2 linked regions of the Homo sapiens genome follow. The protein of the gene in region 1 interacts with the protein of each later gene in a biochemical or structural test. Each region holds a gene or a part of one and is shown in the gene's direction. Other genes may lie near its edges.

Evidence for each region. Proteins that work in one complex are often made in the same cells at the same time.
Region 2: the proteins of RASSF6 (region 1) and SHANK2 interact in a test that uses a peptide from one of them, tested with the Homo sapiens proteins (one large-scale study listed by IntAct).

The regions. Positions count from the first base shown.
Region 1 is NC_000004.12:73,613,859-73,617,509, reverse strand, and holds part of RASSF6 (ras association domain-containing protein 6), read left to right. Parts: intron 1-1,573; coding exon of another isoform or gene 1,574-1,619; intron 1,620-3,651.
Region 2 is NC_000011.10:70,479,495-70,483,145, reverse strand, and holds part of SHANK2 (SH3 and multiple ankyrin repeat domains protein 2), read left to right. Parts: intron 1-3,651. UniProt on the Homo sapiens protein: Seems to be an adapter protein in the postsynaptic density (PSD) of excitatory synapses that interconnects receptors of the postsynaptic membrane including NMDA-type and metabotropic glutamate receptors, and the actin-based cytoskeleton.

The DNA.
Region 1 (3,651 bases):
TACTGGGAAGCTCAGGTGAAGCAGAAAATTTTTGAGTTCCACCACACCAGTAATTCCAGAAGATGCTGTCGGCAGACTGAGCAGCGCCTCCCAGACCCAGTGGTGGCAAGATGCCTTAAGTGCCTTAATACAAATTTGCTTCTCTGACCGTTTCTGCTTTCTTTATCTCCCTGAGGGCACCTTGAGCAGAATAAAATGCATGGCATTAGTACCATGTAAATATGCAATAGAACAGTAAAGTTTTGGCATTTCCAATTAGATTCCACTTGAACTGAGGGCAGTGGCATGCTCACATAGAAGTGTGTTTGATTCATATTCTGCTTAGTCCTCTCTTAGATTCAATGATTATAATACATTATTTCTATCTCAAAACCAACAATCACTGACTGCAACCAATATTACTTAATTAAGTGATAGTTTGTATATATGCCAACTCTTGACCTTTACTGTCTCTGCAAATAAAGCACATTTTAAGAAAAAGTATGGAGCCAAATGTTTCCCAGAAACCATCACTCTGTTAACTCTTTTCCTTTTTTGAGAGAACTAGATACTGGATGGAATTATAGATGCTTTGTCTCATTTTCTTGAAGTGATGTAATTGCATATAACTCTGCTCTTCTCTACTCCAAGGTTCCAGGTCATAACTTTGAGAAAACAGTTTCGTTTTGGAGATGAATACATAATTGTAACTTTCTATTGCTTCTTCAAGCTGAAACAATATTTTATTAAAAAGACTCTCCGTGTGTACAGCCCTTAACATACTCTTATCTCATAATTGAAATACACACTTGCTATTCTAGTGTGATACTTTCTGTTCTTTTTTTAAGTAGCTTTTACTGGGGACGTGGGTGAGAGAGATGTAACATATATTCCTTGTCTATGATTTAGACAGTACATACAAAATAAAAAAAGAAATAATTATCACACATAATCTCTTAGCTCTTAATTTTACCATTAATATTATAATATACCTCTCTGTATGTTGGATGTATTCAATATTTTGTGTATGTTTTATCTATATGCCTGCATATATTCACTCACTTTAGAAGACACAAAAATGAAATAGCAATAATTCTGTCCTAAAGGACCTAGTAATCAAATTAAGTAAAATAAAATATGGTTAGAGAGAGAAAGCAGTAAGTAATTAGAAAGCTACAGAAAATTTCCTGTGAAATTTCAGAAGCAAGAGAAATTGTCTTTGGCTGGGAAATACAGGGAAGTTAGCACCTGTATATATATGTATAGATAGATAGATAGATAGATAGATAGATAGATAGATAGATAGATATAGATATATGTATATATATTAGTTCTTTGTAAAATCATTAGCATTATGACACTTTGTGCACCTTGTGGCCTCAGAAATAAGAGGCTATAGATATAGATACAGGCTATACTTTCTGTGCCTAGCACGGTAGCAGGTGCAGAGAAGGAACTCGTGAAATATTTGTTGAATTTACAAACGAGTGAACCCAATTTTCCACTTTTAGATATGTAACCATTTAATTAACTCATGGTTGGATAACAGGAAGTTACTTTAAATGACTGACCCATTTGATTTAATTTGTACTAGAATTCACTTCCTGTCCTCTGGCCTCATTCTGGTCACAAGGCAACTGGTAAGTCCAGGCAAGCCCACCTCTAGGCAGGAATGCAGAGCAGGGGGAGGTGAACCACGTTCCAGCATTGCTGGAACGCTAATGCTGCCCAACACTGCCTCCTCAGGCTCCATCCAGATCTCATTGGCTTGTTCAGACCAATTCTACCTCTCCTATACTTCTAGTGCTGTTGATTTCTCCAGGACTTAATTGCTGACCTATCTAATTCCCTGTTTCTCCAGCTTCATTGTTTCTGGACAAAATGAAAAAGTAAATAACCAAACTTATTAAATAATGATCTTATTTTACACACAATCTAAGTCAATAATCTCTGGCCCCAGGGCCTACATAGATTTGTAACAACCATCTTCCTCCTCAAGTTGTAGTTTATTATGTTCTACCAAAATTACTGAACATCCCAAGTAAGACCTCCAGGCTTCTAGAACTGTAATTTTTTCTTTCTTCATAAATTCTCTCCCTCGTTGCTATTCATGACTTCTCTGTTATTCTCCTCTTAAGTCCTTGAGAAAATTTGCTCAGATGCTTATATCTACCAAGTCTTTATAATTTAGGAGATTTTCACAAGGGCCCTAGCAGGTTTTAGTTTGCTATGAATCATGGTGAATGGGAATGGGAAGATGAGGATGAAAAACTATTTGAATTCATAGATCTATGCCTCACTTCATTGTTTTTGTTTGTTTATTTGTTTTGCTCTTTTTTTTTTTTTTTTTTTGAGACAGAGTCACACTCTATCACCCAGGCTGGAGTGCAGGGACACAATCTTGGCTCACTGCAACCTCCATCTCCCAGGTTTAAGTGATTCTCGGGCCTCAGCCTCCCAGGTAGCTGGGATTAAAAGTGTGTTCCACCACACCCGGCTAACTTTTGTATTTCACTTCACTGTTAATACTAACAATGGGACTTTTACCAAAGCATGTTCTTACCTTTCAGGTATTTAAACTGTTTGAATATTTTATTTACCCAATTTTTAGATCAGACATGAATAATATTATTTCCTACTCAAATATTATGTGCTGCCTATGAATGAAAATTTTATCCTGTTTTTATTTTCTTACATTAAATTATATTCAACTTTCTTCCTTCCTAAAGTCAGAAAATAATATAAGAGCCTTGGAAACCCTTTCATCACATCTTCTGAAGTCTTCTGAAGCTGGCTATGAGTTACCTCAGCATAGATCAACAGTGTGTCACTATAACTACATTGCAATTATTTGCCCTCTTTAATGATATCTTTGATATTTCTTATGAATGCAAATAAAGAGTGAGCCAGTTGGAAAGCTACTGCAATGATTTTTCAGTCCATCACTGCCAATTTTCACTTTGTAATTATAAGAAGCTGCTATCAGTGGTTCTTCAGTTCCAAATATCCCCAGTGTCTGGTGAGGGAAGCAAGCTGTCTGGTTCTTAGATGGTCTTTTTGCTATGCTCTGACATGGTGGAAGGGTCCAGGCAGCTTCTGGGGTCTCTTTTATAAGGGCACTAACCACATTCATGAAGTCTCCACCATCATGAACTAATCACCTCCTAAAGTCCTCACCTGTTAATACTATTGCATTGGGGGTTAAGTTTCAACATCTAGGTTTTGTGGGGACACAAACATTCAGACCACAACAGAGGGAGGCCCTCTAGTAGGCTGACGCAATAATCCAGGAAAAAGATGATGGTGGCTTGGCTTAGGGTAGTAGCAGTGGAAATCAAAGCTTTCGAATTTGGAATATGTTAGTGGTACAGTGAATAGGACTTACTTTTGGATTGAATTTGGCTTATGATGAAAGAGGGAAAAAATGAGACTAAATATTAGTTTTGATGCCTAGATGGGAAAGAATTGTGGAGGAGGAAATTTTAGAGCATGGGAGAAAGTCAGTGGTTCTTTTTCAGCCATGTAGATATCGAGATGCCTGGTACACATCTAAGTAGAGATTAGGTAGGTGGTGACATGCGTCTGGAGCTCAACAGAGATTATGGGATGGAGACAGATTCGATTACCTGGAAGAATGTATAGATAGAGAAGAAAGGATGGCTGAGAATGGAC
Region 2 (3,651 bases), on another chromosome or scaffold:
TTCCCCTTGTAAGCAATGTCTGCAGTAAGGAAGGAGCTGGAAGGGAATGGCTCTAGGGCTGGAGGAAGGAATCCACTGTTCAGGTCAGCAGGGCATCCTGCACCAAGCTGTGCTCCCCTGAGCACTCCACTCGGGGAGTCCAGGGACCCCGTCCATGGAGACCTCTCCCTGAGTGGCAGCTGGACAGCTCATCCCCTCTACTCGTCTTCAGGCTGGGCCAGCTCCTGGGGTGCCCACAGGGGAGTGGGACCCCAACTTGCAGCGTCTCTAGGGTTTCTCTGCCCTGCATTTCTCCAGGGGGACCCTGAGAGGGGGCTGGCTCAAAGCAGACTTCATAGGGCAGAATCCTGCTGTACTCTGAAGGAGAGCAGCTGCATACCACCGCCGACCCACGCGTGAGTGCCAAGAACGGCCGCCTCCCAGCTGTCCTGTTATTTATAGCCCGGCTCTCTTACAGTAAGAACAGGAGCCCACACCTATGACACAAAGCATTCACCAAACGCCAGGCACTACATTCCACGGCACCCCTGAGCCAGGGCCTGTAATTTTTCCCACTGTGTGAACAAGGAAGCAGAAGGCAGGGCGGTGAAGCTACTGAGCCGAGGCTACTTCACAGGAAGACGCGGAACTAGACCTCCAACCCATGGAGCTGGCTCAGGGTTTGACTCCTCACCTTGTGGGAGCCAGGGACTGCCTTGGAAGGAATGACCAACTGGCAAACCGAACACCTGCAAGGCTGAGACTGCCGCGGGCGGGGCTGCTCTCAGGCCTCTGACTGTCCTTAGGCCAAGCTCTTTGGTCAGCAAGAGGCTAATAGCAGGCTTAGTCACTAGGAGGTCACCCTGCGGCCGATAACAGCAGGCTTAGTCACTAGGGGTTCACTGGCACTGCCAAGCTCCCAGAGGCCATGTCTGTTCCCTTCTTGCTCCCGGCCAAGGGTTACACTTTACACTCAGAGTTGGACTAGAAACAGGATGGCCTGAGGCCAGAGGACAAAGATGAAGAGCATTCACTGTAGGCACTAAACTAGGCTCAATCCTCTCCCTCGCCCTTGCTTCTCGGATCTAATAACCTCACCAGGCTGAGCACTTGGGACAAAGCCCCCATGGAGGTGCGCCACGGCCACGGGACACACTGACAAGGACAAGTGGGGGGCAGTCAGAACCACCACTGGGGGGGGGTCCAGGACGGAGTTGCCAGGGCACCAGAGCTGTCCCCCTTGCCGTGAGGGCTGTCTCCTCTCAGCCACAGACCTATCTCTCAGCATGTCTCCTTTGCTGGGCGTGGTCTTCACTGATGGGCCCTGGGCATTTGATCATCTGAGGATCAGAGGGAGCCTTAAGAACTCTCACCTGAGTTCACCGCCTGGGCGACTCACCACCACCTTTAAATGCATCTAAAAATTAAGAGCTGTGAATGGCCCTGGGCAAAATGAGGCACGAAATTGGATGAAGGGAATTCCTACCGAGGAAAAAGAAATGAGTTTTTCTAGGGAAAATTGAAAACCAGCCATGCTTTTTGAAATGACAGATAAGCAGTGGTGTAAAAATCCCATTTCCATAGAAACAAGTTTTGACTGCCCAAGAAAGGGACAATTTTTAGAGCTGTTCCTCAAATGTTCATTCATGAAATGGGCAGAAACCTCAGCTGAACTTGACCCTTTTAAAGTTCCTCTCATCCTTGGATTCTTCCTTTCTTTTCACTTCTTGCAAGAATCCAGGATGGGATCAAAGGAAGCAGCTGAAGATTAAACAACTAGATCCTTGTTTTCCTTGGGTATGTTTGATTTAACTTTAGCCGTGAATGAGTCTCTGATGCTCAAAGCTCTTCCCTGAAATCAAGGATGACATGGAATTTGCAGGCGTCTTAATTACAAATACGCCGACGAAAGGAAGATGATGAAGTAGTTCTCTTTAGTACATAATGTTAAAAGAGAAAAAAGTACATCATATTAGAGGCATCTCCCAGGGTGATCTGAAAACACCCTGCCAAGAATGGAGGCGTCAGTTCTAAGAAAAGTGTTCCAGGACCACCTGGCCTGATTATTCCAGGAGGTAGTCTCATCTTTGATCTCAAACTGGATCAAAGTGAAGGAAACTGGTTTGGGGAAGGAAGAGTGAGTGTGTCTCTGTGAAGAGTCAGTGGTCCCTCCTCAGCAGAATGCCAAGACAACAGCTGCCAGCCCAGAGGCCTGACAGTGCTGCACGCTGGGGGTCCCAGCACAGGAGCCTGGGGCTGCAAAAGCTCAGAGCCGGAAGCTCCTCAGGTGCAGGCCTAGGAGACTGACTGGACACTCAGACTTGGAATCATGGCCCAGCCCCACTGTCTCCTGAATTCACCAGTCAGGAGTTCACTGAGCTACTTTCTATAAGCCTAGTGCCAGGCTGAGGCTAGAGAGTAACGAGGAATACACCAACAAGGATGCCTGGACCCTCAGAATGGGGCAGCAATTCCGTCACTAATCATTCACTCAACAAAGTTAGGGATTGCCTTTATGTGCCAGGTGCCATGCTGTGCCCAGGATTTATCACTGAACAAGAAAACATTCCAGATGCCCCTCCCTTTGGGGAGCTCAAATTCTCGAGGGGAGAAATGGACAACAAATAATAAGACAAACCCAAACTGTGACAAATGCCACAAAGGAGCCACAACATGCTAATAGGTTAGTGACCAGTGCAGAAAGGGGCTGTGATGCACCAGCAGGTAAAAATAACCACGTGCAGAAGAGAGCCACGGGACACCAGCAGGTTAACCCTGACCACATGCAGAAAGGGCGGACTAGGATGCCCTAGCAGGTTACAGTGAGCATGTGCAGAAAGGGACTGACACTCTGCAAGGAAATGACATTTGAATGACCAGAAATTTAAAAAGGAGCCAACCTTGCAGAAAACCAGGAGTGGAGCATCCCAGGCACGGGACAGAGAGTACAAGGCCCTGAGGCCAGAAAGTGCCTTCTGTGCTCATGAAACCATGGCCAGATGAGGAGGGCTGGGCAGGGCCAGGTCACAAGAGGCTTGCAGGTAATGGGCATGAGCTGAATGGAGTTCCAGATATGGCTGCCTTCAGAGGGCTTCAGCAAAGTCTTGGCATGACCAGACTTTGTTTCCTGAAGATGGCCCAGGCAGCTGTGTGATCAGGTGAATGCACTGGTGGCACAGGGAGGCTGCTGTGGGAGTGTAGGGCCTGCATTCTGGAGACAAGCAGGGAGACTCAAGGGCTAAGTGCCTAAGGAACCCAGGAGAACACAGCAGCTTGCCTGACTTATATGCTTTGACCCAAAACAAACTTGCTATGACCCAGGAGCCCCAGGTGTCATGTGCCCTCCAGCTTTATTGAGAGATACTGACACATACCAGGCGCCGATAGTAAAGCCAGATAAATCTGATGTTCTTTACCATCGCTTCCATGGCAGAGGTCAGCTTCACATTTGCTCTGTATGTGGGGGCAACAGAGCAGTGAGTGTGTGCTTGTGGGGGTCCCCCATGGCTTCTGTTAGGGTGCATGGCCTATAAGAGTTCCCCAGAGTCCCCTCTAGGTCGCCAGCCCTTTGCAGTGGGTGGGGTCCAGAAGGGACCTCGAGATTGGCCTTCGCTTCCCCATGGGATGGATGGGCTTCAGGGAGATTTGTCCTGTGAAACTCCAGGTCCCAGA